Regions from separate parts of the Homo sapiens genome. Here region 2 is linked to region 1. Evidence: fine-mapped expression QTL. A gene starts in region 1. The other region holds a variant in brackets. All regions are shown on one strand. Distances are between the middles of the regions. Region 1 holds the start of MYRF (myelin regulatory factor). Region 2 overlaps GANAB (glucosidase II alpha subunit).

What was found.
Region 2: its variant is fine-mapped to the expression of MYRF in prefrontal cortex (BrainSeq, PIP 0.95).

The regions. Positions count from the first base shown.
Region 1 is chr11:61,747,619-61,756,067 of GRCh38, forward strand. It overlaps MYRF (myelin regulatory factor), which reads left to right and starts at 5,018. Exons shown (of 27, transcript NM_001127392.3): 1 at 5,018-5,172. The coding sequence starts at 5,127. It overlaps MYRF-AS1 (MYRF antisense RNA 1), which reads right to left. Exons shown (of 4, transcript NR_026882.1): 3 at 8,017-8,078; 4 at 6,411-6,827. RefSeq lists enhancers at 1-408, 1,269-2,130, 8,434-8,449 and silencers at 4,808-4,947, 5,068-5,167.
Region 2 is chr11:62,634,596-62,642,595 of GRCh38, forward strand. It overlaps GANAB (glucosidase II alpha subunit), which reads right to left. Exons shown (of 24, transcript NM_198334.3): 2 at 5,032-5,136; 3 at 4,764-4,872; 4 at 4,388-4,515; 5 at 226-405. Among named protein-coding and RNA genes, the nearest start is that of GANAB, 8.0 kb to the right of the region's middle. The variant C/CA (reference allele first, on the strand shown) is at 3,303.

The sequences.
Region 1 (8,449 bases):
CACCTCCCTCCCCAACAATGCAGACAGCTAGGGCAGGCAGGGGTGGAAGATCCCAGTGGGACAGCACTGAAATGCAGGGGCCACTAGAAGTCTTTGCTGAGGGCTTTCCTGAGAGGGCGCAAAATACCTGGCCAGACCCAGTGCAGCCCAGGAACCCCAGGCCAGCATAGCTTCCGGGCAGTGAGGCCTAGGGAGTGGCTGGAAGGCCCAGGTGGTGGGGCCTGCCCCCTCTACACAGCAGGTGGCGCTGTTCAGCCAGTCAGTCCCGCCTTGGCCGCAGAGTCTGGCCTCGGCACTGACCCAGCCAAGCTGACCGGACCTTTCCCTTCCCCTGACCCTGCCCCCATCTCGGCCCCCAGTGTCCAGTGGCTCTATTTGGTGAGGGGCTGGGGAGAGTGATAGAAGAATGCCCCCAGCCTTAGAGCCTGTCTTCACCCACAGCCACTGAACAGAAGCAGAAACGGGCCAAACAAGGGTGAAGACCTGCCCAAGGTCGCATGGGAGGTGGGGACAGACTGGGGACCAGAATCAGGGCCTCTCAGCCTAGGACTCTGGCCTCCACCACACCTGATGGCTTTCAGAGGTTCTTTGCCCTCAGTGGTCTCAATGGTCTGCAAATTATCCTGTCCAGTGAGCACAGCACAGGCAGAAGAAACTGAAGGCCAGGGAGGCTCTGTGGCTTGCCCGGGGCTGCAGCCAGGGTGTGGCATTGGGGAGGGTCTTGAGAGGGCAGTGCTGGGAAGGGCTAGAGAGGCACTCTGCCTCACGCTCCACTCAATACCTGCAGCAGCCCCCTCCTGTCCCGGTGCCCCTGCAGTCAGGAAGGGGTCTACCCTGCAGGACCCCACACTCAGGTGTGCCCTTGGGCCCTAGTCCGGGGAAGCTGGACCACCAGCCTCACTGGCTTGCTGGATTGACACTCACCCCACTTTGAGCCCTCCTCTTCCTCTGCGAAATGGCCTGATGCCAGTGCTGTGTGGGTCCACAGGAGGCCAGGAGAGTCCCACGGTGGGGAGGACAGGGCTGTACCTTCTCCTGGGCTGGCCTCTACGCCCATTACCCATTAACCCTCAGGTGCCAGCATCCCTCTCCCCAGTGCTGCCTTCGGTCTACCACCTCCTCCTGGCCCTGCTCCCACTCAAGGGACAGTGATGGGTGCTGAGAGCTGATTGGAACTGGAGAGGGCACCATTTACTGATCACTGACCTGGCACTTTACCTCCACTGTAAGGCAGGGATACTGAGTGTGCTTTATAGATGAGGCCTCTGAGGACAGAGGGCAGGCCTTGGGGACTAGGTGGAGCTGGCTACAGGGGACAGCCATGTCTGCTGGGCTAGGGCTGAAATCTCAGCCCCTCACTCACTGTGGCTCGGTAGAGAAGCCAGGGGCACAGATGAGGACTCATCTCCATTGATGGGCCCCCCTAGGTCCTTGTATGCAAGTCCCCTGGGCTACTTTCACCGGCCCAGCCACCTTCCTGCCCCAGCCTCTGCCCCAGCGCTGCTTGGGACCCAACTTCATTATGGAGTTGGCAGATGGCAGCCTCAACTCTTGGCTGAGCCCTTGAGTCTGGGACATTTCAGCCACCTCTTTCCTCCAGTCCAGAGATGAAAATCCCTGGGGACAGTTGCTCCTTTGCTCAGTGACCTAGTGTAACAGGGGAGATGGCAGGGCCTGAGCTCCCTTAGCCAGGTCAGCTGCTACAGGGTTAACAGGAGGCTCCATTCCACCCCTTCCAACTTCAAGGCTACCCTAGAGATTGAATAATCTATACTCTTAATTGATTATAATGCAATGGAGTTGGGGCGTTAGGGACAAAGTACGAGTCTTCCCTTCTACCTCCAGCCCTTGCTGACCAGGACAGGGACAATGTGTAGCTCAACGGATGGTGGTGAGAACTTAGATGATGGTCAGTTATGCAGTATGTGGGATACGGAGGAAAGATCCGTGGGTATGTGGAGGCTTGTAGAGAAGCTGGTTCTGTGGCTGGTCCCAGGCGACTCGTAATGTAAATCCGTTTCTCAGAATCGCGTGGTGTAGGCGGGTGTCTACTTTGTCCGCAGGCAGGCCTGACCCCGGGTGGAGGAGGGGCAGGGTGGAGAATAACAATTGTCTTAAGGGAGTCTGCGGAGGGAGAAAAACCTCTGGGGTGTATCAGCTGGAAAAGAATAGGAGTCTCAGTGTGGCCCCTCTCCCCCCTCTCAGCCCAGCCCCTGCGGGGGCGGTGAGGGAGCTGCGGTCAGCACACACAGCTGGGGCCTCCAGCAAAATCCCATTCTATATATCTAAGAGCAACAGCTCTGAGAGCGGCCCCCAGAGGGACAAAACCTCATTGTGAGGCACCCGCCGGCCTCAGCACCCCCTCCCCCAACCCCAGAACTGTCGTGGCATTGACCCTTTTCGGCGGGCCACCATGGGCCTGCTGACTGGGCCACATCTGGGGCTCAGGCATTGGCTGCCCCTCCCCCACGGCTGGCCACTGAGAACTGACAGGGAGGCTGGGGTGGGAGCGGCTTCCAGGCCTCTCACCCCATCCCCACGGGGTGGCCTGGCTTGTGCCCCACCCTCCCTGGGGATGCTGCAAGGCAGAGGTGAGAGTCCGAAGCTGGCTACGTTGGCATCTTGATCTGCCAGCAGTCCCCCACACCTCTGGCCTCTGTTTAGTGGCTTGTCAAACAGTGGTTGGGTGGGGTAGGTTTTTCCAGCTTTTACGTGCTGCCTTGAAGGGTCCCGAGAGGCTTCAAGTTGAGCCACTCTGAAGCGGGATGATTCTCTAGGTCTGGGATTCCAGAATTATCCGCTCCCAAGGTTTCAGAGGTCCAGGATTCTGTAGATTTTTGTTTGTTTGTTTGTTTGTGTTTGGAGACAGGGTTTTGCTCTGTCGCCCAGGCTGGAGTGCAGTGGTGCAAACATGGCTCACTGCAGCCTCACTGCAGCCTCAACCTCCTGGGCTCAAGCGATTCTCCTTCCTCAGCCTCCCCAGTAGCTGGGATCACAGGCATGTGCCACCGTGCCTAGTTAATTTTTTAATTTTTTGTAGAGACAGGGTCTTGCCATGTTGCCCAGGCTGGTCTCGAACTCCTGGCCTCAAGCAATCCTCCTGCCTCAACCTCCCAAAGTGCTGGGATTACAGGTGTGAGCCACTGGAGCCTGACTGGATTCGGTAGTTTGAAGATGCCACCATACATTCATTCAACACATTTATTGAGCACCTACTGTGTGCCAGGTCATGTTCTTGGTGTTGAAGCTATAGCAGTGACCGATACAGAAAAATATCTTGCCCTCGTAGGGCTTCCATTCTAGAGCAAGAAGGATAATAACAGAAACTAAATAGGAATCTTTTACATGGTGAGCAAGAAAGGCCTAGGTAGGGAGAACTGCTTTAGGTAGGCTGGTTGGGGACATGACATTTGAGCTGAGACCAACTGCTACAAAGAAGTAGCCATGTGGAGACAAGCATTGTAAACAGATGGAATAGCATGTGCCAAGGCCCTGTGGCAGGTGTAGGCCTTGCATGTTTGAGCAATGGCAAGGAGGTCTTGGTGGCTGTTATTCAGTGAGCAATGGAGAGAGGGGAAGAGCTGAGGCCAGTGGTAGAGGCGGGGCCTGAGAAACCAGAGCAAGACATTCAGATATTGTTTTGAGTGCAAAGGGAAACTTAGTTTTGCAAAGGAATGACATGATCGGATGTATGTTTCAGAAAGGGTGATTTGGGAGAACTGAAGGGGATATCAGTGAGACGAGAGGCTGTGCAAGTTGGGCAGGACAGAGATGTGGAGGCAGTCAGTCATAAGGGTGAAGGCAGGGGCACAAGGACAACCGCTTTATCCTGGACTTATATCGAGTTAGAACCTCCAGGTTTCATTATACCAGACAGGGCCACGGCAAAGGAGAGTTCGGATTCCCGGGGCAGCCAGGATTTGGCTCTGAACTTTAATGACCTTGAAACTCTTAGGCAGGGCGGGGAGCGGTGGCTCATGCCTGTAATCCCAGCAGTTTGGGAGGCCAACGTGGGCTGATCACCTAAGGTCAGGAGTTCGAGACCAGCCTGGCCAACATGAGGAAACCCCGTCTCTACTAAAAATACAAGTTAGCCCAGCGTGGTGGCGCCTGTAATCCCAGTTACTGGGGAGGCTGAGGCAGGAGAATCGCTTGAACCGAGGAGGCAGATGTTGCAGTGAGCTGAGATCGCGCCATTGCACTCCAGCCTGGGCGACAGAGCCGAACTCCATCTCAAAAAAAAAAGGAGCTTTTAGACCTGCATTGTCCAATACCACAGCCACACGTAACTGTTTAATTACAATTAAACAAAATGAAAAAATCAGTTCCTCAGTCTCAATAGGCACATTTCCAGTGCTCACTTGTGGCCAGTGACTACCATACTGAACAACACAGGGAACATTTCCATCATCACAGCCACAGGACAGGGCTTCCTGGCAGTCCTTAATGCATTGAGCCTCAGTTTCCCCATCTGTAAAATGCAGGTAACAACAGCATCTCCTTGATAAGGTGCCTGTGAGGAGTACATGAGATAATGCCTGTGTGGCCTGGCACATAACACACGTTCCCTAAATGCAGGTTGTTATTGTTGCTGAGCGGGGTGTGTGGGTGGCTAACGAGAGGGATGGGGGCTGTCTCTGAGGTTTGGATTCGGAATCGTGACATCTTGTCCCGTGCAAGACGAAGGCGAGGACGGCGAGGGCACACCCTTCCAGTCCCGACCCCACAGAGGCCAAGCGGCCCTTCGCCCCCACCCCGACCCGGGAAGGCCCCGCGCCCCTCAAGCCTGGGACGGTCTCGCGTCCCCCGACCCGGGACGGCCCCGCGCCCCGCAAGCCTAGGACTGCCCAGCGCTGAGCGCCGCCTGCAGGAGTCGGGAGCGTGGTGCCCGCGGCCGGGCTGGGCGCGGCGCGGGCCGGCAGGGGGCGCTGGGCGCGGCGGGCGGGGCGCGTGGGGCGGGCAGGGGCCGGGCCAGGGACGCGCGGGGGGCAAGCGCGGCGGCGGACCGGGCGGGACCGTAGCCGGAGCCCAGCCGGGACTGTCGCGCGGGCCGCGCCGGCGATGCCGCGCCCCCGGGCCGGGCTGTAGCGGGGCCGCGGCTGGAGTGTGCGCCGGGCAGGCGGGACATGGAGGTGGTGGACGAGACGGAGGCGCTGCAGCGCTTCTTCGAAGGTGAGAGACCGCGGGCTGGCGGCGGCGACCCTCTGGCGCTGGGAACCCCCGGCTGATCTCCCCGGGAACTGGGGCTCCTCGCTGTGTTTCCGCCTCCTCTGGCTGGGACCCTCCTTCAGGCTGGCACCAGCCCGCCAAGACAGGCTCCCGGGGCTGGGAGTCCCCCAGCGGTTACCACCCACCGCCGCTGAAGTTGGGCTCCCCCTCCCCGCTCCTCAACTCGCAGCTTCCTTGGGACTGTGTCCCCTTCCAGGTCCGGACTCCTTTGAGCCTTCCAGGACCCGGAACTTTCCCTAAATTGTGACACTCTCGCCCCCAGCAAACTTCCCGAGTCTGGGGACCCTCTACTTTGCTTCCCCAGAACCCCAAGCGGGATACAACCCCATTCAAGGCCCAGACCCCCGGTGTGCCTTCTAGGACCTTCCGTACCTCTTGAGGCTGGACCCCAGCCTGCTTCCCAGAATCTGTGACCCCCGCCTAGAGACCAAGACCCCCTGTGTGCCCTTCTGGTTGGCGCCATCCCCCATGACTTCTAGGAGCTGGGACCTCCCCACTGTGCTTCCATGAGGGTAGGACCACTTTCGAGCCTGGATCCCCTTGGAGACTGCCACCTGCTTTCCACAATGCTGCCTAGTGACTGCTCTCCTGTTTGGGGCTGGGACCCCCCTCCCTAGCATGCTCTCCTGGGGCTGGAACCTTCTTGAAGCTGACATCCCTGCCACCGGTCACCTCTGCTCTCTGAGACCCTTCTAGTGCTGTGAACTGCATCCCACCAGCCCTCTGAGGCTCCTCAGCACTATGTCCCCCCAACCCTGGAGCTGTGCCTCTCTGACCTCGCCCCCTCAAAGAGTGACCTCACCCCCACTTGACCGAAAGGAGCCCTCTGGGGTGGAATTGACATACACCCCATAATATCTTCTTCTGCCCCCACCCCTACATTGGTTTTGGAGGTCTGCTCCTCCATCTAACCAACTCCCTGTCTTTTCCTGGACGACCCCTGCCCCTCCTGCAGGGCCACCACTCCTCCTGGTGCTGGGTTCTGGAGGGATGGGACCGCAGTGGGAGGGGGAGGGGAAGTTCTGGCTGACTGCCTCCCAGCCCACTCCGCTTCTCAGAACCTCCCTGGAACATCTAGCCAGACCCTCTGGCCCCCTTTTGTGCCCCTGTCTACCAATGCAGCGAGCCCAGCCCCTGCCCCGAGCTCCCTCTAGTCCCTAAGGCCACATCCTGCTCCTTGGTGCATTGAGAACCTTCCCTTCATGTGTGAACCTATCAGGGCTACAGGGCAGGGAACCAAGGCCCAAGTTTCAAGCCCCAGATTCCTGTGGAGTCCTGTGGAGGAGAGAAGCAGGTCTTCCGGTGCCTCAGTTTCTCTCCCTCTGTGACTTGGGAGGCAGGAACCCTTGTTCACACCTGCTGGCTGAGCAGCCCAGGCAGGGGCACCCCTAAGCCTCAGTCATCCCACTCCAGGATTCTGGACACCCCACAGACCCAGAACCCAAGAGTTCAGGCTTGGACTAGATTGAATGGTTGACTCTGCATCAGGTGGGCCATCTGAGGGTCTTAGGCAGCCCTGCATCTGTCCCGGGGCTCTGGCTCTCCCCAGACACTGTTGATCCATAGGAGCTCTCGAGGGGCCTGACGCGGTTTGAGACCTTCAGGGAAGAGGGGACCAGACATTCGTGCTTGCTTGGGTTACTGTCTGGAGTGCCTTGAGCCTGCTAGGTACCCAGAGGACCCGCAGGCCAGGCTCCCTTGACCTCCACACTGCCTGCCCCAGGACGCTGGGCCCTGACAGAGAGCAGAGGGGTGGGCCTGGCTGGCCTGGACTCCCTGGCTCCCTCCTGACCATGGGTTGGGGGGTGGGGGCTGACGCCACGGCTTAGCCATGCAGCGGCCTGGCGGGGGGAGGCTGCGCTACTCCCTCCAGAGAGATAAGAGGAGACTCAAGAATGTCTGTGGGGAGCAGGGGAGGGGTGTGAGGCTGCCCGTCTAGGAGGGCTGGGCTGGAAACAGCTCCCAGCCCCTGCGATGGGGGAAGGTGTGGGTGGCCCCTGAGGCCTAGGGTCTCCAGGCCACTTGGGAGGGGAAGGCCCATGTGGGGGACCCACTGTAGGTGTGAGAGAAGGCCTGGGAGTGGCAGGGCCTGGTGTGCTTGTGAGTGTGTGAAGTGCGAGGGAGCGGGAAGTTGTGCTTTTGAGCCGTGGCTGCGTCACTCTTGAGTGCTGTCACACTCGGGGCTGGGGCTGGGGACACCTGAGCTCTCATCCTGGTCCCCACTTGGCCTTGGTCATCCCTCTGGACAGTGGGTAGCAGTCCCTGTGCTCTCGGCTCTGGGCTGGGAGACTGGGAAAGGGTTTTACCGAAGGGGCTGCAGCACAGCGCGCCCCCTCACCTGACGTGGTCCCCCTCCCTGGGCACACACCAAGCATAGGTGCTGGGTCCTGCCCTGTGCCGGTGGTGGGCTGGGGGCTAAGGCGCTTTGGACCTCAGGTGGGAGGCCGGGACAGAGCGGCCCCCTCGAGGCTGGTACAGCCGGGCCCCCGTGACCGCCCGGCTAATCCCCTAGAGAGAGGCAAGGCAGCCCAGATCGGCGGGCACAGGGCCTGCAGAGAGGGGACCCACCGGGCAGGATGCACTGGCTTCCAGCAGGTAACCGGGCCATGGTATAAGGGGGCTTTGGACTCCAGAGCCAGGGCAGGCACGGGACAGGGCAGTGTCTGAGAATCCTGCCAGGACCTCAGAGTTCTGGTGCAGGCTGGACCACTGAGAGTGGGGTGACCGTCTGTGCCTGGCAGGGAACCCCCAAAGAGCTCTTGCCCTCTTTAAGTCCTTTTTCCTCACCTGCAAGACAGGAGGGGGTGGCAGAGAAGAACCTCAGCTCTGAAGAAGCTCACTGCCCAGCCCTGGGAAGGAGAGACATGTTAGAGTATGAATGGCCGAGCCTGGAAGGGGTGCCTGCTGGCCCTAGATTCTAGGGGCACATGAGGCTCGAGTGAGCAACCAGTGTCCCCCAGAAAGCAGGTGGGTGTGCAGGGAGCCTTGGAGGATGGAGGGAAGTCGCCTTCCAGCAGGTGCTGGAAAGACCACTTGGAGTTTAGTGGGCCTCTGCCCGGCCTCTGGAGCCCCACCAGGGCTGGAGGAGGGAGGCCTGGGATTTCGCCCCTTCTGAAGCTGATGGGTGGCTGGACTGGTGACTTCCTTCTCTGGCCTCATTCCCCTCCCAGGGTAAGTAAGTGGGTTGGACCAGAGCAGGGGCTTCCAATGTGATTTTTTA
Region 2 (8,000 bases), 890 kb after region 1:
TGCCCAGGGTACAGCTCAGGGACAAAAGTGACTGCCTCCTGGTCTGTACAGGAAATGGAAAAAACCGCACCCGGGTCTGGTTCCTACCCTCCCTGACAGAGAGCTTCTCCCAGCCCCCAGGCCCTACCTGGCTGTCCCACCACCGTCTCCTCCCCGTGCCAGACCTCACAACACCCCTATGCTCTTTCACACTAGGTTCCCTGCAGTCCCAACCCCTGTACTCACGAGACCCTAGGGGCCCTCTGATGCTCAAACTCCAAGAGTCCTCGGGCATTGACACTAAGCAAAAGACTTCGGTCCTCTAGTAGGTCAAGGCGGAATGGCCGTGCTGTCAAGATGATCTTGTAGGGTCCCTCAGCCATGGTTAACTCCACACTGTTCTCATCACGACCAGAGACAGAAAGCCTGGGAAACATATCAAAAGAAATATAAGGAAGTACAAAGGGCCAAGAGGAGTAATGACACTTTAGAAGACCGGGGGAAATCTACCTGTTAAGAGAAATAGGCAGTGTGGTAACAGAGCAGGGATAGACAAGTTAATAAACAGAACCAAAGGGCCCAGAAACAGACCCAAGCATATTTATTACTTTTTTCTTTTTTTTTTTTGAGACGGAGTTTCACTCTTGTTGCCCAGGCTGGAGTGCAATGGCGCAATCTCGGCTCACCGCAACCTCCGTCTCCCAGGTTCAAGCAATTCTCCTGCCTCAGCCTCCAAATAGCTGGGATTACAGGCATGCACCACCACACCTGGCTAATTTTGTATTTTTAGTAGAGATGGGGTTTCTTCATGTTGAGGCTGGTCTCAAACTCCTGACCTCAGGTGATCCACCCACCTCGGCCTCGCAAAGTGCTGGGATTACAGGCGTGAGCCACTGTGCCTGGCCACTTATTACTTTTTTAAATGTACTAAATACTAAGAGGTGGCATAGCAGATGAGAGAGGAAAGGAGAACTATTCAAAAATGGAACTGAAAAAACATTTTCCATATAGGAAAAAAAATGATTTTCCAAATATGAAGAAAAATGATGTACTTCTTTTTTTTTTTTTTGAGATGGAGTCTCGCTCTGTTGCCCAGGCTGGAGCACAGTGGCACAACCTTGGCTCACTGCAACCTCCACCTTCCAGGTTCAAGTGATTCTCCTGACTCAGCCTCCCTAGTAACTGATATTACAGGCAGGTGCCACCACACCCGGCTAATTTTTTTTTGTATTTTTAGGAGATATGATTTTTCGCCATGTTGGCCAGGCTAATCTCAAACTCCTGACCTCAAGTGATCCACTTGCCTCGGCCTCCCAAAGTGCTGGGATTACAGGCATGAGCTACCACGCCCAACCCCTTGATATCATATTTCTATCTAATACCAGATACAAGTATCAACTGCAGAAAGATTATGACTTAAAAAATTTTTTTTTCTTAAGATAGTCTCACTCTATCACCCAGACTGGAGTGCAGTGGCACAATCTCGGCTCATTGCAACCTCTGCCTCCCAGTTTCAAGTGATTCTTGTGCATCAGGCACCCGAGTAGCTGGAATTACAGGCGCCCACCACCACGCCCGGCTAAGTTTTGTATTTTCAGTAGAGACGGGGTTTCACCATGTTGACCAGGCTGGTCTTGTACTCCTGACCTCAAGTGATCTGTCCGCCTTGGCCTCTCGAAGTGCTGGGATTACAGGTATGAGCCATCACACCCAGCCTGCTTAAAATTTAAAAGTAAAAGCTTTAGGATGGGCTCGGTGGCCCACTATTGTAATCCCAGCACTTTGGGAGGCCGAGGCAGGTGGATCGCTTGAGCCCTGGTGTTCAAGACCAGACTGGGCAACATGGCAAAAACCCATCTCTACCAAAAATACAAAAATTAGCCAGTCTCATAACCCGATCTCAAAATAAGTAAATAAATGAAAGCAAAAGTGTTAGAAGAAAATTAAAAAATATATTTTTGGCCAGGCATGGTGGCTCATTCCTGTAATCTCAGCACTTTCGGAGGCCGAGGCAGGTGGATCATGAGGTCAGGAGTTTGAGACCAGCCTGGTCAACATAGTGAAACCCTGTCTCTACTAAAAATACAAAAAGTAGCCGGGTATAGTGACGCACGCCTGTAGTCCCAGCTACTTGGGCATAGTGGCATGAGCCTGCAGTCCCAGCTACTCGGGCATAGTGGTGCACGCCTGTAGTCCCAGCTACTCAGGCATAGTGGTGCACGCCTGTAGTCCCAGCTACTCGGGAGGCTGATGCTGAAGAAAGAATCGCTTCAACACAGGAGGCGGAGGTTGTGGTGAGCCAAGATCGCACTACTGCACTCAGCCTAAGCAACAGAGCAAGACTCTGTCTCAAAAAATATATATATATATATTTTTTTCTGACCTTGGGGTAGATAAAGACTAAATACAACAAACAAAAGGCTAACAACAGAAGGTAAAAGACTGATACATCTAAATACATTAAAATTAGGAATTTCTGTTTATCAAAAGTACCTTTAGGATCATTAAGAAAAAGGAAAAGTCTAAGAAATTTTATCAGTCTAGAGGGCCCTAAGGAAACATGACAACTAAATGTAATAACATATCCTGGATGAAATCCTGGAACAGAAAAAGAACATACACAAAAACTAAAGAAACCTCAAGTATGAACTTTAGTAACTAATGTATCACTATCAATTCACTAGGTATCACAAATGAACCATAGTCATATTAATAATAGGGAAGGCTGGCCGGGTGTGGTGGCTCAAGCCTGTAATCCTAGCACTTTGGGAGGCTGAGATGGGCAGATCACGATGTCAGGAGATCGAGACCATCCTGGCTTGCCCAGCTTCAATGAGGGCTTCTTATAAATCACTGGTGGAAGTGTAAATTGGTAAACCACTTTGGCTTTATCTTGCGAAGCTGATCATCTCCATATTCTACAATCCTGCAATTCCTCTCCTAGTTATACACCAAAGAGAAACTCCCAAGCAAGGATAACAGGAGACATGTACAAGAAGGTTCGTAGCAACACTTTGGCTAGCAAAACACTGGAAACAACCCCAAGGCTTATCAACCTAAAAATGGATTAATCAGTTGGGGTATATTCATACAACATAATAATATGCAGCAGTAAAAATGAATGAACTAGAGCTATATGAAATGGAATTAAATAAAGTTATGTGAAAAACGGAAACCCAGCCGGGCGCGGTGGCTCACACCTGTAATTCCAGCACTTTGGGAGGCTGAGGCGGGCGGATCACGAGGTCAGGAGATTGAGACCATCCTGGCTAACGCAGATCACGCCACTGTACTCCAGCCTGGGAGACAGCGAGACTCCATCT[C/CA]AAAAAAAAAAAAAGAAAAAACGGAAACCCCAGAAGACCACATGCACTAAGACACTTCCTCTGTAAAGCTCAAAAACAAAAAATATATATAATTTATTGCTTAGGCACACAGACATATGTGTGCATATGTATACACACATAATACAACTGTAAGAACAAAAAAAAGGCAAAGGAAGGATAAGCTTCAGAATAACGACTACCTACGTCTGGAGCCGTCAAGGGTACAGGACAGTGCGGGTTGGGCTGAGTGAAGAGTTTATAGGGTGGAGTATTTGAGACGGAGTCTCACTCTGTCGCCCAGGCTGTAGTGCAGTGACACAATCTCGGCTCACTGCAACCTCTGCCTCCTGGGTTCAAGTAACCGTCCTGCCTCGGCCTCCTGAGTAGCTGGGATTACAGGTCCGCACCACCACACCTGGCTGATTTTTGTATTTTTAGTAGAGATGGGGTTTCACCATGTTGGCCAAGCTGGTCTCCAACTCCTGACCTCGTGATCTGCCCACCTCGACCTCCCAAAGTGCTGGGATTACAGGCGTTGAGCCACCATGCCCGGCCACTATGTTATTTTCTGAATTATGTATTTAAGAGAAAGTCATGGATGGATGCATGGAACACTGGTGACAGAGTATCATGACACAAGAATCTGAGTAATCCTATTCTGAATATCTAAGGAAAAGGAAAGGAGGAAGGAAGGAAGGAAGGAAGGAAGGAAGGAAGGAAGGAAGGAAGGAAGGAAGGAAGGAAGGAAGCAAGCAAACAAGCAAGCAGGTAGACATTGTATTCCTGGAGAACGAGATCTGTAAATAAACAGGGCCTTGTTTATTTCTGCTTATATAACCAGCATCCAGCCCAGGCCTGTCAGGGAGGAAAAAGCAATAATTGTTTGCTGAATGAATGAATGAGGATAAAGGGATAAAGAGAAAAGTGAAACAGAAGAAGAGGTGGGGAAAGGTTGAGGAGTATGGCAAGGTGCTATGCTAGTTAACTACTACCTTATTTTGGGAAAGAATATCAGCAACCAAAAAAAGGTTCATCAGGAAGGAGAAAGGGGCCACAGAAATGGATGTTTCTCAGGAAAAATTTACCGGGCTATTGGTGGATCAGCCACCAAAACATCTGGTACACGGTATCGGGGTCGCCGAGGCTCCAGCTCATCAATCCTGAACCGAGTCATGTTCTTTTGAAGCCCCTGAAGCTCTAGCACCAGCAACACCTGCGGGGACAGAGGTTTGGATCTGGAGAAAGGAAATGGGATACACCATGGAATGCTCTTTGAACCCATTCTCTCCTAAGGGGTTTCTTCCTTTGAGCCCTTTGCCTAAAGGCCAAGATCACATTTCTTCATAAAGTAAAAGTCCAAAGATTAGGCTGGGACAAGATGTTGGCCACAATTTCCCCCTTTCCAAATTACCCCACAGCCATTGCCCCACCCCCACCAGACTCTTCCTTGTCTCTCCTGACCTTGGTGACCTCATGGATCAGATGGACCGTGAGGGAATCAGGACCAAGCTGTAGAGAGTCCAGCAAGGCTCGGTATGGAGAGAGGCCTGGCCGTATGCTTCTCTGTCGCCTGCCAAGTGAAGGGTTGGGAAGTAAGGTAAAGGCCACCTGCAATGTCCCTAAGTCAGTCTATCACCTGCAGTGTCCTTAGGCACTCCATCTGCCACAGATATCTCCCACATTACCCTACAACCCTACATTCCATCCCTCTCCCCCAGAAATATCATACTTGCAGAAAGAACTCTCTTCACAGGTCTTAAAGTTGCTTCTATCCACAGCAAGGGTAATCCCCAGGCAGACCCCTAAAAAAGCCAGTACCAAAGACGCCCAAGACCTAAGGAGAAAAGGACAAAGACAGAGCAATCAGCATGGAGGTCAGAAGGGGCCCCCTTCAAAAGGAAAAGCTTCTTCCTGTCATAGCACTAGAAGATAGTTGAGGAAAGAGGGGAGAAAGATGTAGTCACATCAAATACAAAACAAGGCAGAGTGGACACAGGGTTAAGGATCAGGCCTGAGAAGTTGGCTCACTCACACCTTCCCTTTGAAAGGCAGAGTAGGCTGGGCGTGGTGGCTCACTCCTGTAATCCCAGCACTTTGGGAGGCTGCGGCGGGCGGATCACGAGGTCAGGAGATCAAGACCATCCTGGCTAACACGGTGAAACCCTGTCTCTACTAAAAATACAAAAAAAATTAGCTGGGCGTGGTGGCGGCCACCTGAAGTCCCAGCTACTCGGGAGGCTGAGGCAGGAGAATGGCGTGAACCCAGGAGGCGGAGCTTACAGTGAGCCAAGATCGTGCCACTGCACTCCAGCCTGGGCGACAGAGCTAGACAAAAAAAAAAAAAAAAAAAAAAAAGCCAGGCGCGGTGGCTCACGCCTGTAATCCCAGCACTCTGGGAGGCTGAAGTGGGCGGATCACGAGGTCAGGAGATCGAGACCATCCTGGCTAACACAGTGAAACCCCGTCTCTACTAAAAATACAAAAAATTAGCCGGGCGTGGTGGCAGGTGTCTGTAGTCCCAGCTACTTGGGAGGCTGGAGCTGGAGAATGGCATGAATCCGGGAGGCAGAACTTGCAGTGAGTCAAGATCGCACCACTGCACTCCAGCCTGGGTGACAGAGTGAGACTCCATCTCCAAAAAAAAAAAAAAAAAGGGCCGGGTGCGGTGGCTCATGCCTGTAATCCCAGCACTTAGGGAGGCCAAGGCTGACAGATCACGAGGTCAGGAGTTTGAGACCATCCTGGCTAACACGGTGAAACTCTGTCTCTATTAAAAATACACAAAATTATCCAGGCGTGGTGGTGGGCAGCTGTAGTCCCAGCTACTCGGGAGGCTGAGGCAGGAGAATGGTGTGAACCTGGGAGGTGGAGCTTGCAGTGAGCTGAGATCACTCCACTGCACTCCAGCCTGGGCGACAAAGTAAAACTCCCTCTCAAAAAAAAAAAAAAAAAAAAAGGCAGAGTACACAGAGGATCTTTCACCTTCAGAGGCCCTGGTGTTGACTCTGGTGACATCAGCCTCTCAGAGGAAAGGAGCAGTAACAGCCAGTCTCAGAGGAAATGGTAGTACCATATGCGTGGAACAGAGAAACAAAGCAAGCCACATCTTTCTATCGGCAAGGCATTGGGTGGATGCAAAGTTAAAGAGCTAAACATGAAGGCCGGGCGCAGTGGCTCATGTCACGTCTGTAATCCCACCACTTTGGGAGGCTGAGGCGGGTGGATCACTTGAGGTCAGGAGTTCAAGACCAGCCTGGCCAACATGATGAAACCCCATCTCTACTTAAAATACAAAAATTAGCTGGGCATGGCGTTGAGCATCTGTAGTGACAGCTACTCGGGAGGCTGAGGCATGAGAATCGCTTGAACCCGGGAGGCAGAGGTTGCAGTGAGCCAAGATTGTGCTACTGCACTCCAGCCTAGGTGATGGAGCAAAACTCTCAGAAAAAAAAAAAAAAAAAAGATGTACCCTCAGCTAGCCTGCTGGTTACAGTTCCTAGGGTCCTAACATCCCTAGCACCCTAGGCAGCCTGTTTCTCTGATTTCTACTCCTGTATCTTCAAAACACCACCATCACTACCCAAAGCTGAAAAAAAATAACAATAGCTAAAATGTTCTGAGCCCTAATGCACCCCTAGGGGCCTGGGTAATCACTTTATATTACTAGTTTTTAATACTGCCTGCAGTTTTTGTTTTTTGCTTTGAGACAGTCTCACTCCATCACCCTGGCTAGAGTGCCATGGCATGATCTCAGCTCACTGTAACCTCCGCCTCCCAGGTTCAAGCAATTCCCATGCCTCAACCTCCTAAGTAACTGAATTACAGGAGCACGCCACCATGCCCAGCTAATTTTTGTATTTTTGGTAGAGACGGAGTTTCACCATGTTGGCCAGGCTGATCTTGAATTCCTGACCTCAGGTGATCCACCTGCCTCACCCTCCCAAGTAGCTGGGACTACAGTTGCTCGCCACAGCACCCAGCTAATTTTTAAAAAGTTGTGGTTTTTGTTTTTTTTCTGGCCAGGCGCAGTGGCTCACACCTGTAAACCCAGCACTTTGGGAGGCCGGGGTGGGCGGATCACAAGGTCAGGAGTTCGAGACCAGGCTGGCAAAGAGACCAGCCTGGCCAATATGGTGAAACCCCATCTCTACTAAAAATACAAAAATTAGCCAGGCATGGGAGCAGGGGCCTGTAATCCCAGCTATTCAGGAGGCTGAGGCAGGAGAACTGCTTGAACCAGGAGGTGGAGGTTACACTGAGCAGATCATGCCATTGCACTCCAGCCTGGGCAACAGAGCGTGACTCTGACTCAAAAAAAATAAATAAAAATTTTTTTTGGTAGCAACAGGGCCTCACTTTGTTGCCCAGGCTGGTCTTAAACTCCTGGGCTCAAGCAGTCCTCCCATCTTGGCCTCCCAAAGTGTTGGGATTATAGTGTCAGCCACTGTGCCCAGCCTGCCTGCAGTTTTTAACAATATCAGTGACCTGGTCTCACTTCTAAAAATTTTAACTTAATCAGAGAGAAGCCTGGGCATCAGACTTTTTTTTTTTTTTTGAGATGGAGCCTTGCTCTGTCACCCAGGTTGGAGTGCAGTGACATGATCTCAGCTCACTGCAACCTCTGCCTCCTGGGTTCAAGCGATTCTCCCGCCTCAGCCTCCCGAGCAGCTGGGATTACAGGTGCCCACCACCATGCCC